Regions from separate parts of the Homo sapiens genome. Here region 1 is linked to region 2. Evidence: fine-mapped expression QTL. Tissue or cell type: whole blood. Region 2 holds a variant in brackets; the other region holds the start of a gene. All regions are shown on one strand. Distances are between the middles of the regions.

The links. PIP is the estimated chance that this variant, and not a neighbour inherited with it, causes the effect.
Region 1: H6PD starts here. The variant in region 2 is fine-mapped to the expression of H6PD in whole blood (TOPMed, PIP 0.99).

What each region holds. Positions count from the first base shown.
Region 1 is chr1:9,231,216-9,238,789 of GRCh38, forward strand. It overlaps H6PD (hexose-6-phosphate dehydrogenase/glucose 1-dehydrogenase), which reads left to right and starts at 3,559. Exons shown (of 5, transcript NM_004285.4): 1 at 3,559-3,851. RefSeq lists a silencer at 3,412-3,971.
Region 2 is chr1:9,253,887-9,261,460 of GRCh38, forward strand. All of the region lies in intron 3 of H6PD (hexose-6-phosphate dehydrogenase/glucose 1-dehydrogenase), which reads left to right. Among named protein-coding and RNA genes, the nearest start is that of H6PD, 23 kb to the left of the region's middle. The variant C/T (reference allele first, on the strand shown) is at 4,344.

The DNA of each region.
Region 1 (7,574 bases), 23 kb before region 2:
GGAAACCATTACATAACTACTTTATGTGGACTTTAGGAAGCTAATCTTAAAAAATAAAAAAGGTCTGTTACAATGGCTCATGCCTGTGATCCTTGCACTTTGGGAGGCCGAGGTGGGAGGATACCTTGAGCCTAGGAGTTAGAGGCCAGTCTGGGCAACATAGTGAGGGCTTAGCTCTACAAAAAAAGAAAGAAAGAAAGAAAAAAATTAGCCAGGCATAGTGGCGTACACCTGTAGTTTCAGGTACTCAGGAGGCTAAGGCGGGGGGATCACTTGAGCCAGGAGGTTGAAGCTGCAGTGAGCTATGATCGTGCCACTGCACTCCAGCCTGGGTGACAGAGTGAGATTCCGTCTCAAAAAATAAAATAAAAATTTTTAAAAAGAGGCTCCTTATGTCTGAGGATGAAAAGATCTACTCGTGGCTGAAAAATCTCTACCTGTTTCCCTCCCTCCCCACCTCCTGCGAGAAGCAAGACGAAGCCAGCAGAGCTGCCTTAGGGAGTGACACCTGAAAATAGAAACTGCAATGGGATTTTATTTCTAACTCCACAGGCATCTCTGTGAGTCATTCATCTCTCTGGGTCTCACTTTCCTTGTCTGTAAAGCAGGCTGAATTCACCCTGACTTCTGCCTACACCACAGTTAAAGGGCTAGGAAGAAAAATCCCCAAAAATCCACTTCATAAATAGAGCCCCAGGGCGCTCCTTATAAAGCACGAGATAAACCACAGACAGAATTCTGGTCACAGGACACCCCCTGGACCACCCATGGGGCATCATTCCTTTCTCCCGGCTTCCTTCATTCTCCCGGCTTCCTTCACGGGGTTCTGGGCACACCTGGTCCCTTGTAGCTGCGGTCAGCACGGAAACAAGAAAAGCTTCAGACAGGCAAAGGTGCAGAAACCAATGCCAGGGCCCACAGGGACAAAGTTTTCGATTTTTGTGTTTTGGGTGGCAGTACTCTCACACCAGGATGACTGGGTCTTAGCACGACCTAATCGTCTTCATGATGGAAAGAAAGCAAAGCAACTGATTGCCCAGAGAAAACTGGAAGGTACAGAGGCAGGATGAGACTGAGGTGAAGGTAAGGTGAGGAAAGACAGGCGGAGAAATGAAACATCTCAGGGTGGTGTGGGAGTGGACATAGGGTTGGGAGGGCATTGTGACCCCCTAGGCTAATTCCCCCCTCAGACCCCACCCCAACGTTACCTAATCAGGTGGACGTTTTCTTAGTAAGCAGGTTACAACTGACTTGGTTTGGGGCTTTGTTTTTTTTTCTTTTTTTTTTTTTTTGAGACCGAGTTTCACTCTTGTTGCCCAGGCTGGAATGCAGTGGCGCGATCTCAGCTCCCCGCAACCTCCACCTCCCAGGTTCAAGCTATTCTCCTGCCTCAGCCTCCCGAGTAGCTGGGATTACAGGCATGCGCCACCACACCCAGCTAATTTTGTAGTTTTAGTAGAGACATGGTTTCACCATATTGGTCAGGCTGGTCTCGAACTCCCGACCTCAGGTGATCCACCCGCCTCGGCCTCTCAAAGTGCTGGGATTACAGGCGTGAGCCACCGTGCCTGGCTTTTTTTTTTTTTTTTTTTGACACAGTTTCACCCTGTTGCCCTGGCTGGAGTGCAATGGCGCGATCTTGGCTCACTGCAACCTCTGCATCCTGGATTCAAGCGATTCTCGTGCCTCAGCCATCTGAGTAGCTAGGACTACAGGCACGCCACCACGCTTGGCTTTTTTTTTTTTTTTTGTATTATTAGTAGAGATGGGATTTCATCATGTTGGCCAGGCTGGTCTCGAACTACTGACCTCAGGGGATCCACCTGCCTCGGCCTCCCAAAGTGCTGTGATTACAGGCATGAGCCACTACGCCTGACCTGGGGCTATTTATAAGAAGCCCTCAAGGTAGCAGATCACCCTCTGATGGCCACATGGAGATCTGGGAAACGAACCCCCGGTCATGCCTCTGGACACCTGCCCACTTCTATCTGTGCCTTCCTGGGCCCTGGTTTTCAGAGCTATGTGGGTGCCTGACACACTCAGGGCCACAGAACATGGGAAGGGCTCTAGGCCAAGAGTCCCGGCATCATTCGAGTCTGCTCTGGCCCGCTCCTGCCCTAAGCCCTCCTGCTCACTTCCAGCTGTGGAGGTAGCCCAGAGAGTGCCTGGCTCCCTGGCTCCCCCCTCTGCCAGGCCCACTCAGTGTGACCTAAATCCTTGCCGAGGCTTGGCAGCCCTCTGCGGGCGCCCGGATGGCCTCTGGCCTTGGTGACGGTGAGGCCCAGCTCCCCTCAGTTCCCAGCCTTCCCGGAACCCCTTGCCTAACATCCTGTGTGGTAATCATGCCTGTTGGCCCCATTCAGTCCTGCCGGCCACTGCCAAGTTGCCACTGCTAGTTCCAGACGCTCCCACCTCTAATGGAACCATCGGGAAATAAAAAGCTGCAGCACAGTTTCTCTCTCAGGTCAGAATCTCCTCCCAGCACTTTGGGAGGCCAACGTGGGAGAATCACTTGGGCCCAGGAGTTCGAGACCAGCCTGGGCAACAAAGTGAGACCCCGTCTCTACAAAAAGTTGAAAAATTAGTCAGGAGTGGTGGCGAACATCTGTGATCCCAGTTACTTGGGAGGCTGAGGCGGGAGGATCACTTGAGCCTGGGAGGCGGAGGCTGCAGTGAGCTGTGATAGCGCCACTGCACTCCAGCATGGGTGACAGAGCGAGACCCTGTCTCAAAAAAAAAAAAAAAAAAAAAAAAGAAAAAAAGAAAAGAAAAGAAAGAAAAAAGAAAAAGTGGGGAGCAGGTTGGGGAGCATGGTGAGGGCCACCTACTGCCTGATAATGGTGGGGGACAGGAAGGGGACTGAGTGCTCTGAGAGGCAGCTGATCCCGTTTTCTCACTTAAATACCTCTCACCCTACAGAGAAGCCCTGATTCCATTTGCTGTCTTTCTTAGCAATGTCTTAGCAAAAGTCTTCTATTTGCCACACGGGTCCAAGCTTCCGCTTACTAAGCACCCAAGTGCCAGACAACCCCGGAGGCAGGTACTCCCATTGTCCCCACTGTACAGATGAAGAAACTGAACTCAGGGTCACACAAGTGATAAGGGGTGGCAGAGATCTGAAGCTGTGCGCGGAGGCGTGGCCAGCGTGTGCGCTCCGACTTCTAAATCCCTACTCTGGATATTGAAGACGGGAAAGACCGAGCCGCTCATTCTACAGATGGGGAAAAGCGAGGCCTGAGGAGTCCCAGAGCGGGTGCCAGATCGTAGGGAGCAGCCAGCACCCCGGGTCCCCTCCACGACACAACCACGTCCCTCGGCCACTTCTGGGTCCCGCGCGCGTCTCGGACGCGGCAGGACAGCTCTAGGACGCACGGCCACCAGGGGGCCGAAGGGAAGGGCGGGGGCGGAGGCTCGGAGCTGACCCACCGCCTCGCCCCGGAAGCTCCGAGGCCCCGCCCCGGCGGCCGCCAGCGGAGGGCGTGGCCTCGCCGGCGCCCCCGCCCCGCCCCCGCCCCCGCCGCGCGCGCCCCCGCCGCGCGCGCCCCCGGCCCGGGCCCCAGTCTTGCTGAGCGCAAGGCGGTGGAGGCCTGAGGCCTGAGGCCTGGGGCGGGGTGGCGGCCGGGCTGGCCTTGGCCTCGCGCCTTCCCCTGCGGCCGCCGCGGGCTCCGCGGGCGGTATCGGAGTGTCGTGCGGCGCGTGGCCGCGTGACACGCGCACTTGTCGGAGTGACGGGCCCTGCGGAAGAGGAGGTGCGGCCCAGGGCGCAGGGGAGCCCTCGGGAGCGGGCCCGGCCCTCAGCGCCGCCCCGGCCGTGTCCCGGAGGAGCGGCCTGCGCCGCCGCGCGAGAGGAAGTAAGCGCCCCCCGCCGGCCCCGCCGCCGCCCCGGCCCCGGCGCCTCCAACCCGCGCTGCCGCCGGGCCCGAGGCCGCGCCGAGCCCCGGAGCCTGCGCTGCCAGCCCCACGGAGCCTGGGGCTGGCGGCTTTGGAACTGCTCAGGAGGCGGCCAGGCTCCCTCCAGGGTCGCCCCGAGCGGCCGAGCTGTCCTTTCCCTGGGCTTCCCGGAACTGAGTTCCAGGAGAGGGGGAACTCCGAGATTTCCCCCGGGACCTGCTTAATCTTTGGCATTGATTGGCCCTCGGGTTTCACATAGCGTTTCCCGTACCCGGATCTAGTGAACGGTTTTCCAGGGGCAAACCTCTCTGGATCTCTGAAAATCAGCTCACCCAACCTTGAATGCTTAGCCAGAAGTGAGAACTTCTGGAAAGAAGTGTCCTTGCCCACTCCCCCTGCACCCACAACAGGCCCATGGCTCATGAAAGGCAGCAGATGAGGGAAAACTGGTGTCAAATGGGCATATTTTTTATTTTATCTTTTTACTTTTTTATATAAAAGTAAAAAATCTTTTACTTATAAAAGATGGGGTCTTGCTTGGTTGCCCAGGCTGGAGTACAGTGGCACAAACACGGTTCCCTGCAGCCTCCACCTCTTGGGCTCAGGCCATCGTCCTGCCTCAGCCTCCGGGGTAGCTGGGACCACAGGCGCACACCACCACGCCTGGCTAATTTTTAAACCTTTTGTAGAGACAGTGGTCTCACTATGTTGCCCTGGCTGGTCTCGAACTCCTGGGCTCAAGCGATCCTCCTGCTTAAGCCTTACGAAGTGTTGGGATTACAGGTGTGAAGCACCACGCCCAGACAGCGTATTTTAAATTATGCATCATATCCCTTTAATTTTTCATCATTATGATTGGAAGATCATGAAAAGCTGTCTGAGTTTTTCCTTGGCATTTTTCTGTGGTTGATGGTTAGTTGTTGCCCAAGCTGGAGTGCAATGGCGCGATCTCGGCCCACTGCAACCTTCTCCTCCTGGTTCAAGCGATTCTTCCACCTCAGCCTCCTGAGTGGCTGGGATTACAGGCGCGTGCCACCACACCCGGCTAATTTTATGTATTTTTTAGTAGAAACAGGGTTTCACTATGTTATCCAGGCTTGTCTTGAACTGCTGACCTCAGGTGATCCACCACCTCGGCCTCCCAAAGTGCTGGGATTACAGGCATGAACCACCGCGCCCAGCTGGTTAGTTGGTTTTAACAGCAGTTCAAGAAGCTAGCAAGAAGGACTTCATTCGTGAAGCTAATGGTTTAATGATAGAAACTAACATTTCTGGCCGGGCCCAGTGGCTCACGCCTGTAATCCCAACACTTTCGGAGGCCAGGGCGGGCAGGTCACTTGAAGAGTTCAAGACCAGCCTTGCCAACATGGTGAAACCCCGTCTCTACTAAAAATACAAAAATTTGCTGGGCATGGGGGCAGCGGATGCCTGTAATCCCAGCTGCTGGGGAGGCTAAGGCAGGAAAATCGCTTGAACCGCCCTGCCTCCGGTGACGGAGGTTGCAGTGAACCAAGATCGTGCCACTGCACTCCAGCCTGGGTGACAAAGCTAGACTTCTCCTTAAAAAAAAAAAAAAAAAAAAGCAGCTAGGATTTCTTGGGTGCTTACTGTATGCCAGGCATTGTGCTAAGTACCTTACATGCTTCCCATCGATTTGTTTTCCCATTCTGTGGTTGAGGTACAGAGAGGTTAAATAACTTGTCTGAGGGTACATAGTTACTGAGTGGCAGGGATTTGAATCCAGAATATTCTTATGTAACCAGTTCTCCAAAAACTAGCCCTTGAAGGTCTTCCACGTTTCAACAAAGCAACTGAGGCTTATACATGATGTCTTCATGATGTCAGAAGGAAGAACTGTGAAAGGCAAAGCGGACCCGGGAGGCAGAGGCTGGTTACCGCAGTTAGTGTTCGGAACAGCTTGACTTCATGGAGCAGAGAAACAGCCTGTCTGGTTTAAACCACTGTTCAGTATCTACACTGATACAGTGTAAATGTAATACAGTGTTTTACATTTTGCCATTCAGGGATGTAGTCACATTTTACGGGAAGGTTAGCTCTGGGACCAGACTGCCTGTATTCAAATCCTATCACCTCTAGCTGCTTGACCTTTGGTAAGTTATTTGACTTCTCTTTTTTTTTTTTTTTTTTTTTTTTTTGAGATGGAGTCTTGCTCTGTTGCCCAGGGGCGCAATCTCAGCTCACTGCAACGTTCGCCTCCTAGGTTCAAGTGATTCTGCTCCCTCAGCCTCCCAAGTAGCTGGGATTACAGGCACCTGCCACCACGCCTGGCTAATTTTTGTATTGTTAGTAGAGACGGGGTTTCACCGTGTTGGCCAGGCTGGTTTTAAACTCCCGACCTCCAATGATCCTCCTGCCTCAGCCTCCCAAAGTGCTGGGATTATAGGCGTAAGCCACTGCGCCTGGCCATGTTATTTGACTTCTCTTTGCCTTAGTTTCCTCTCTACTCCCTGCTAAGATGGGGATAATCATGTTACCTACCTCATATGGTTGTGGCAAGATTTAAATGGTGTGATGCATGTCACACCGATAGCCTAGCATTTGGCATATAGTTAAATACTCCATAAATAGCTCTTTTATTATTAAAAGTGTTGTTCCAAGTAGTAAGCTGCTGCTGTGTGCTGTGTCACAGTGCTTGAAGTCACCATTAGAGGTATATTCCTTTGTGCCGTATTTCAAATGCAGAAATGACAGTGGTCCTGTGCAAATGGGATTTATTTGTTCATTTAGCAGATATTTATAGAGCGCCTTCTGTATGCCAGGCCTTGTTTTGGATACTGGAGGTACTGCGGAGAACAAAACAAACAAAAGTCCCTGTCCTCATTGGCACGCACACTCTTGGGAAAAGGAATGGCAGACAATAGGCAAAATGAATGTAATTATCATACAGTATATTAGAAAGCGATGTACTGTGGGGAGAAATAAAGCAGGAGAGGAGGATGGGGGTGGGCGGTTTACAATTTTAGAGTGGTCTGAGTAAGCCTCACTGAGAAGATGACATTTTAGCAAAGAAAAATTAGTGAGGGAGTAAACCACGTGGACCTGGTGGGGGACATGGGGGAGTTGGCCAGGCGGAGAGAACAAGTGCAAAGGCCCTGAGGCAGGAGGCTGGGCGGCCAGAGCCTAGACAGGCAGGATGGTAAGAGAAGAGATCAAAGAGGTAATGGGTGGGAGGCCAGAATGTGTAGACTCTGCAGACATCTGCACAGAGGAATGGCATGATCCAGCTGGAGCTATAAAAAGGTCACTCTGACTGCCGTGTTGAGGCTCAGCCATAGAGGGTCCAGGTAGACAGAGGAGGCCAATTAGGAAGTTCCTGTAGTAATCCAGACGGAGATGACGGTGGCTGGCACTGGAGTGGAGTGGTGGAAGGTGGTGAGAAGCAGTTGTATTCTAGATAAATTTTGAAGATAGAAACTACAGGATTTGCTGACAGATACGATGACCTCAAGGTTTCTGGGTCTGAACACCTGGAAAGATAGAGTTGTCATTTACTGATAATGGGGAAAGCTACATTGGAAGCAGATTGGGAGAGAAATCAGTTCAGTTTTGTACATATTAAGTCTGGCAAACATCCCACTCATGCTCTCAGAATAGCAATTGACTGCATGAGTCTGGAGTTTAGGGGAAGTTCGGGCTGTAAATAAAGACTTGGACGGATAGGC
Region 2 (7,574 bases):
AGTCTTTATCAGTGTTTCCTGTGTGCTAGCCACTGTTCCAAGCCCTGTGTGGATATTAACTCCTTCAGGCCCACAGAAGCCCTGTAAGGGAGGTGCGGGGATTGTTGCTTGTTCGTATGTGAGGTGATGTCAGTTGCTGGAGATCACAGGGCTGAAAGATGGCAGAGCCGGTATTTAAACCGGGGCAGGCTGGGCACGGGGGCTTATACCTGTAATCCCAGCACTTTGGGAGGCCGAGACGGGTGGATCACTTGAGGTCAGGCGTTCAAGACCAGCCTGGTCAAATGGTGAAACCCCATCTCCACTAAAAATACAAAAATTATCCAGGCATGGTAGTTTGTGCCTGTAATCCCAGCTACTCGGGAGGCTGAGGCAGGAGAATTGCTTGAACCCAGGAGGCGAAGGTTACAGTGAGCCAAGATCGCGCCACTGCACTGCAGCCTGGGTAATGGGGAGACTCCATCTCCAATAAAATAAAACAAAATAAGATAAGATAAAATAAGATAAAATAAACTGGAGCAGCCTGGCTCCAGAGACCACACTCCAGATCACAGCTCTGTACCACCATTCAAGGATCCAGCCAGTCACCAAGTAGTTTGTATTCATCTGCTATAATAACTTCTTTGCAGTTCACTGTGACTTCGTTCCCTCCTACCTTTGTTACTTCCTTTGATGGCAGCAAAGGCTGCCTCACTGATTTCACTACCACCAGTCCCATCCTGTTCATCTTGGAGGTCGCAGACAGCTTCATCTTCCTGAAGTACCTCTTTCGTGCTTCTGCTTCCCTGTTCTAAAACCTTTTTTAAAAAGTTTTATTGAGCTGTAACTCACAAATCCTACTACACTTTACCCAGTTAAGGTGGACAGGCCAGTGAGCTTTCGTGTATTCACAGAGTTGTGTGTCAGTACCACAATCAATTTTAGGACATGTTCATCACGGCAAAGGAAGCCCTGTACCCCTTCGTTGTCATCCCACAATTTCCCCCTCTCCCCAGCTCCTGGCAACCACAGAAATGCATTCTCTCTGCGGGGTTGCCTGTTCTGGATATTTTGTACATATAGGATCATACGGTGTGTGGTTTCCATCAGTTAGCATCCTGAGTTCAGAGTTCACCCATGTTCTAGCATGTACCAGCACTTCATTTCTTTTTACTGCTGAATAATATCTTATTGTATAGATATACCATAATTTATCCAGTCACCAGTTAGTGGACATTTGGGTTGCCTCTACTTTTTGGCTGTTATATATAATGCTGCAATGAGCATTCATGTACAAGCTTTTGTGTGGACCTGCATTTTTATTTCTCTTGAGTATAAACCCAGGAGTGGGGTTGCTGGAGGATCATGACTCTGTTTAACTGTTTGAGGCCAATAACTCTTATTTATTTATTTATTTTTTATTTTTTATTTTTGGAGACAGGGTCTTTATCTGTCGCCCTGGCTGGAGTGCAGTGGTGCAATCATAGCCCACTGCAGCCTCGACCTCCTAGGCTTAAGTGATCCTCCCACCTCAGCCTCCCAAGTAGCTGGGACCACAGGTGTATTTCACCATGCCCAGCTAATTTTTGTATTTTTTGTAGAGATGGGGTTTTGCCATGTTGCCTAGGCTGGTCTTGAACTCCTGGACTCAGGAGATCTGCCCACCTCAGCCTCCCAAAGTGCTGGGATTACAAGCATAAGCCACTGTGCCAGGCCTTAGGTCCCTTTCAAATGCAAGATATTCCTGATTTTCCTGTTCTATTATTGCAGGGGAAGGGAAGAATTGTCTTTTTACATTCTCCCGAAAAGGAGAATTGGAAGATTTGGTCACCCTGGGCCCACACTCCTGTGAGGCACCACCTGAATGCACCTGAGGTACTTAACTGTACCTCTGAGGGACACCAGCCTTACTCCATCCTTTTCGCTTTTGCTGGCCCCGGTAGGCATTGGAATCTCTGAGCTTTGCCCTAGACCCCTCCTTCCAGAAGCTCAGCCGGCTTCTTCATTGTGCTCTGTTTCTAAAGGCCAGTGGTGCCCACGCCACTCAACTTCACACCGTTCTGTTGTAGGGTTGAAGAGTGGGTAATTAAAAGGGAAATGTTTTGGTGGTAAGAATTGCAGGCTCTGGGTCGAACTGCCTGGGTTTGAAGCTATTTTTACCTCTTTACCAGCTGTGTGTGACCTTGGGTAAGTTATCCAACCTCTCTGAACTTCAGGTTCCTTATATTTTAAAATAGGGGAAATAGAGGGGCCTCCTTATATGTTGTTATTCTGAGGATAAATGGACTGATCCACAAACATTGCTGGCATCAGTTTCTCTTTTTCTGGATGTCTTCTCAACAATAGCACAAGAACTTGAAGGCCACAACACTACAGAGCTGGGGGATCTCAGCCATTGTTTTCCCAGTGGAGACCACTCTTGGCATTTTGGTTGGCACAGTTGGGCTGGACTTCCTGCTCATTTCAAGGTTTAGTATCCCTGGACAGAGCTGCACCCTCTAGCTCCTGGTTGTTATGGCCGGGGACAGAGTGCCTTCCTACGAGTGGCTGCCGGCTTCATTTCTTGCCCCCCAACACTGGTGCTGCTGTCGGGAATGGCATATCGGGCTGGATTCAGGGCAGGTTGTTCCCCCAGCCATGACCTGGACATGCTTGCTGTCTGGTTGGCCCGAGAGTGCACACCACCAACCTGGTCAGGGCAGGTGCCCAGGACTGGCGCCATGGACCCAGAGTGGCTGCTGGGAGGGGAGCATGCTGGGCTCAGCAGGCCTGAACTTAGGATCTGCTGCTTTTTGTCTGTTGGAATTAAATGTTAACTAGATACTAGGTAAATTTAAAGTTTACAGAATGCATGGAAGAGATACAGAACTATGGTATAAGAAACGGGGATGCACCTACCACCCGTTTTTAAAAAAGAATTTGATTCTCCTGCGTGTCCCTCCCCACGTTCTGACCTATTTCCTCATCTTACACTTCCAAATTGTGGATAGATTATTCCCTCGCTTCTCTTTCTGTTTCCATGCACGCCTGGTTCCCTAAACAACCTGTTGTTTAATTTTGAACAAGAGTCATCCTGTATGTGTCCGAGCATGGATCTTTTTGTCTCTGTGTCCAGCATTTGGGAGAATCGCCTCAGCTCTGTCTTCTGCTAGCTGACTCTTTACAGCTGTTTCTCATCTGTAAGGCCCATCTACTGAATTTCTAGTTTCCAATTATATTTTTCATTTATTGAAGTTCTGTTTATTTTGGTCACTTTATATCCTGTTTTCTTTTTCTTTCTTTTTTTTTTTTGAGACAGGGTCTCATGCGGTGTTGTCCAGATGGGGTGCAGTGGCAGGTTCACAGCTCACTGCAGCCTTGACCTCCTGGGCTCAAGCAATCCTCCCACCCCAGCCTCCCAAATAGTTGGGACCACACTTGGCTAATTTTTTTTTTTTAATTTTTTGTAGAAACAGGGTCTCACTTTGTTGCCCAAGATGGTCTTGAACTCCTGGACTCTGGGCTCAAGTGATCCTCCTGCCTTGGCCTCCCAAAGTGCTGGGATTACCAGCATGAGCCAGTCCGCCTGGCCTATATCCTATTTTCAAGTTAATTTTTATTTTATCAAAGTAATCATGTTGCTTTCTCACCACATTACGTCTTGGAGGTTTATCCGTGACAATGTGTGGATCTTCATTTTCTCTGCTGTCCACTGTCTGAACGTAGTGCTGTGTTAGGGGCTAGGGATGCAGCAGAGGGCAGATGCCACTCAGATGGAGCCTCCCTCGTAGTGGGGAAGAAAGAGAAACAGGCCTGAATTACAGTCAGCTGGGCTAGAAGAAGCCAGGGCCCCTCAGAAGGGGTAGGCCAAAGCTCCTAGAAGCTGAGCCCTTAAGGATGACTGGGAGTTTGCTGGGTGAACAAACAAATCCCAGGTTAGGGGTCCTACGTGCAGAAGCCTTTGAGAAATGATGGCTCCTCGTGTCTGAGGCCAGGCTCTCTCTGTAGGTGAGGGTGTGAGGAGACTTGGGCATTGGAACTCTCCTGCGAGGTGGTATGCGTTGGAACCCTGATCTCTGGGACTGTCCTGTATATTCGAGTCACCGATAATCAGTGCTCACCGGGGTTCAGCCTCAGAGGAGGGAGTGGAGCGGAGCTCGTGGTTAAGCAGTGTCTGCTTCTGCCCCCGCGCCTGGTCACCTGCCTCCTTCCTCACTCGCGGAGCAGGAGTGATCACGGTGCCTGCGTGCAGGGTCTTTGTGAGTATGGGGAGGAGCGGCGCGGGCCGGGGCTGCTGTCAGCGTTGGTGTTGTTATGCTGGTGTTGTTACGTTGCTATTGTTACACCGGTGTTGTTACGCCAGTGTTGTTATGTTGCTGTTGTTA[C/T]GCTGGTGGTGTTATGTTGGTGTTGTTACATCAGTGTTGTTACGTTGCTGTTGTTACACCCGTGTTGTTACGTTGTTATACCGATATTGTTACGCCAGGGTTGTTACATTGTTGTTACACCAGTGTTATGTTGTTGTTACACTGGTGTTGTCATTCTTATCCCAGTGTTGTTATGTTGTTATGTCAGTGTTAATGTTGCTGTTGTTATGCTGTTGTTACACCAGTGTTATGTTGTTGTTACACCGGTGTTGTACACCATTGTTATGCCGGTGTTGTGTTGTTACACTGGTGTTATGTTGCTGTTACACCAGTGTTGTTACATTGCTGTTAAGCTGGTGTTATATTGTTATGCTGGTGTTGTAACATTGCTGTTAACACCGTTGTTATGTTGCTGTTATGCCGGTGTTGTGCCAGTGTTATGCCGGTGTTGTTTTGTTGTTGTTACGCTGGTGTTACATTGTTACACCAGTGTTATGTTGTTGTTACACCGGTGTTGTTATGTTGCTGCTGTTACATCGGTGTTGTTACATTGTTATGCTGGTGTTGTTATGTTGTTGTTACACCAGTGTTGTTACATTGCTGTTGTTACTCTGGTGTTGTTATGTTGTTGTTATGCTGGTGTTGTGTTACTGTTGTTATGTTGTTGTTACGCTGGTGTTGTTATGTTGCTGTTGTTACATCGGTGTTATGTTGTTATGCCAGTGTTACATTGCTGTTACGATGATGGTGTTATGTTGCTGTTGTTACACTGATGTTTTTTGTTTGTTTGTTTTTGTTTTTGAGGCAGAGTCTCGCTCTGTCGCCCAGGCTGGAGTGTAGTGGTGCGATCTCAGCTCACTGCAAGCTCTGCCTCCTGGGTTCACGCCATTCTCCTGCCTCAGCCTCCCAAGTAGCTGGGACTACAGGCGCCCGCCACCACGCCCAGCTAATTTTTTGTATTTTTTAGTAGAGACGGGGTTTCACCATGTTAGGATGGTCTCGATCTCCTGACCTCGTGATCCGCCTGCCTTGGCCTCCCAAAGTGCTGGGATTATGGGCGTGAGCCACCATGCCTGGCCACACCGGTGTTGTTATGTTGCTGTTGTTACACCAGTGTTGTTATGTTGTTGTTACACTGGTGTTGTATGGTTACACCATTGTTGCGCCAGTGTTGTGTTGTTGTTACACTGGTGGTGGTGTTACAACAACTTGTTGTTACACCAGTGTTATGTTGCTGTTAAGCCAGTGTTGTTATGTTGTTATGCTGGTGTTGTTATATTGTTGTTACGCCAGTGTTGTTACGTTGCTGTTATGCTGGTGTTATGTGGTTGTTACACTAGTATTATGTTGCTGTTATTCCAGTGTTGTTACATTGTCACACCAGTGTTGTTACGTTGCTGTTACAATGGTGTTATATTGCTGTTATTAAGCTGGTGTTACGTTGTTGTTATGCTGGTGTTGTTACATTGCTCTTAACACCGGTGTTATGTTGCTGTTGTTACGCCAGTGTTGTTATATTGTTGTTACACCGGTGTTATGTTGCTGTTGTTACACTGGTGTTACATTGTTGTTACACCAGTGTTGTTATGTTGCTGTTGTTACGGTGGTGTTATGTTGTTATGCTGGTGTTGTTTTGTTGTTGTTATGCTGGTGTTACGCCGGTGTTATGTTGTTGTTACACCAGTGTTATGTTGCTGTTGTTACGCCAGTGTTGTTACGTTGTTGTTATGCTGGTGGTGTTATGTTGCTGTTGTTACTCTGCTGTTATGTTGTTGTTACACTGGTATTATGTTACTGTTGTTATGTTGTTATGCTGGTGTTGTTGCACTGCTGTTATGCTGGTGTTATGTTGTTACTCCGGTGTTGTTACGTTGCTGTTGTTACGCCGGTGTCGTTATGTTGTTACGCCAGTGTTGTTACGTTGCTGTTAGCTGGTGTTATATTGCTGTTGTTAAGCTGGTGTTATGTTGTTGTTATGCTGGTGTTGTTACATTGCTGTTGACACTGGTGTTGCTGTTGTTACGCCAGTGTTATGTCGTTACACCAGTGCTGTTATGTTGTCGTTACGCCAGTGCTGTTATGTTGCTGTTGTTACGCCAGTGTTGTTATATTGTTGTTACACCAGTGTTATGTTGCTGTTGTTACACTGGTGTTGCATTGTTGTTACACCAGTGTTGTTATGTTGCTGTTGTTACGGTGGTGTTATGTTGTTATGCTGGTGTTGTTTTGTTGTTGTTATGCTGGTGTTATGTTGTTACACCAGTGTTATGTTGCTGTTACGCCAGTGTTGTTACGTTGCTGTTGTTACACCAGTGTTGTTACGTTGCTGCTGTTATGTTGCCGTTGTTACTCTGCTGTTGTTATGTTGTTGTTACACTGGTGTTGCACTGCTGTTATTCTGATGTTGTTATGTTACGCCAATGTTGTTATGTTGCTGTTGTTACATTGGTGTTGTTATGTTGTTGTTACGCTGGTGTTGCTGCACTGCTGTTATGCTGGTGTTGTGTTGTTAGGCTGGTGTTGTTATGTTGCTGTTGTTATGCTGGTCGTGCTGCTCCATGTTCTCCAGGTGTTCTTCCCTTTTATCGTCACAGTTACCCCGTACACCTGACAACTGGACATCTGCGCCTGGGGGTCTTCAGCCTAAACACACCTAAACCCTCCACCAAACCCCTCTGCTTCCGCCTCCCCGTGTCTGTGAGCGCCTCCACTGCCCATCCCTCTGCTCAGGCCCCACTTCCAGGGCTCATGTTGGGGGCCTCCATTTTGCTCACACCCACCCCATCTGTCAGCAGGTCCAGTCAATCCTGACTCTGGGGTGCCTCTCCCTCCCCTCCAGCTCCTGTACTGCCCATTAGTCCAGGCCCTGTCGTCTCTGCTGGGCAGCTGTGCAGCCTCTTCCTTGCCTTCCCTGCATCTGCACCCATTCTCCCCCCAAGACCAGGGGTCGATCCCCAATATAGGTCAGGTCTCGTCTTCTCCTGCCTCAGATCCTCCAGTGTCCCCCCTACAACTGATCTTAGAAAAAAGTCCAGCCTCTTCGCCTTATCCTGCAAGACCCCTGATCTCCTCTCCAGCCTCACCGCTGTCCCCACTCTTTGCTCACCTCCATCTGGCCCCCAGCACACCAAGTTCCTTCCTGCCTCGGGGCTTTGGCACCTGAGGGTCCCTGCAGCTGAGATGCTTTCTCCCTGGCTTTTTGCGAGGCTGGCTCTTCAGGTCTCGGAGGGGCCTTTTCATTACCCTCTGTCA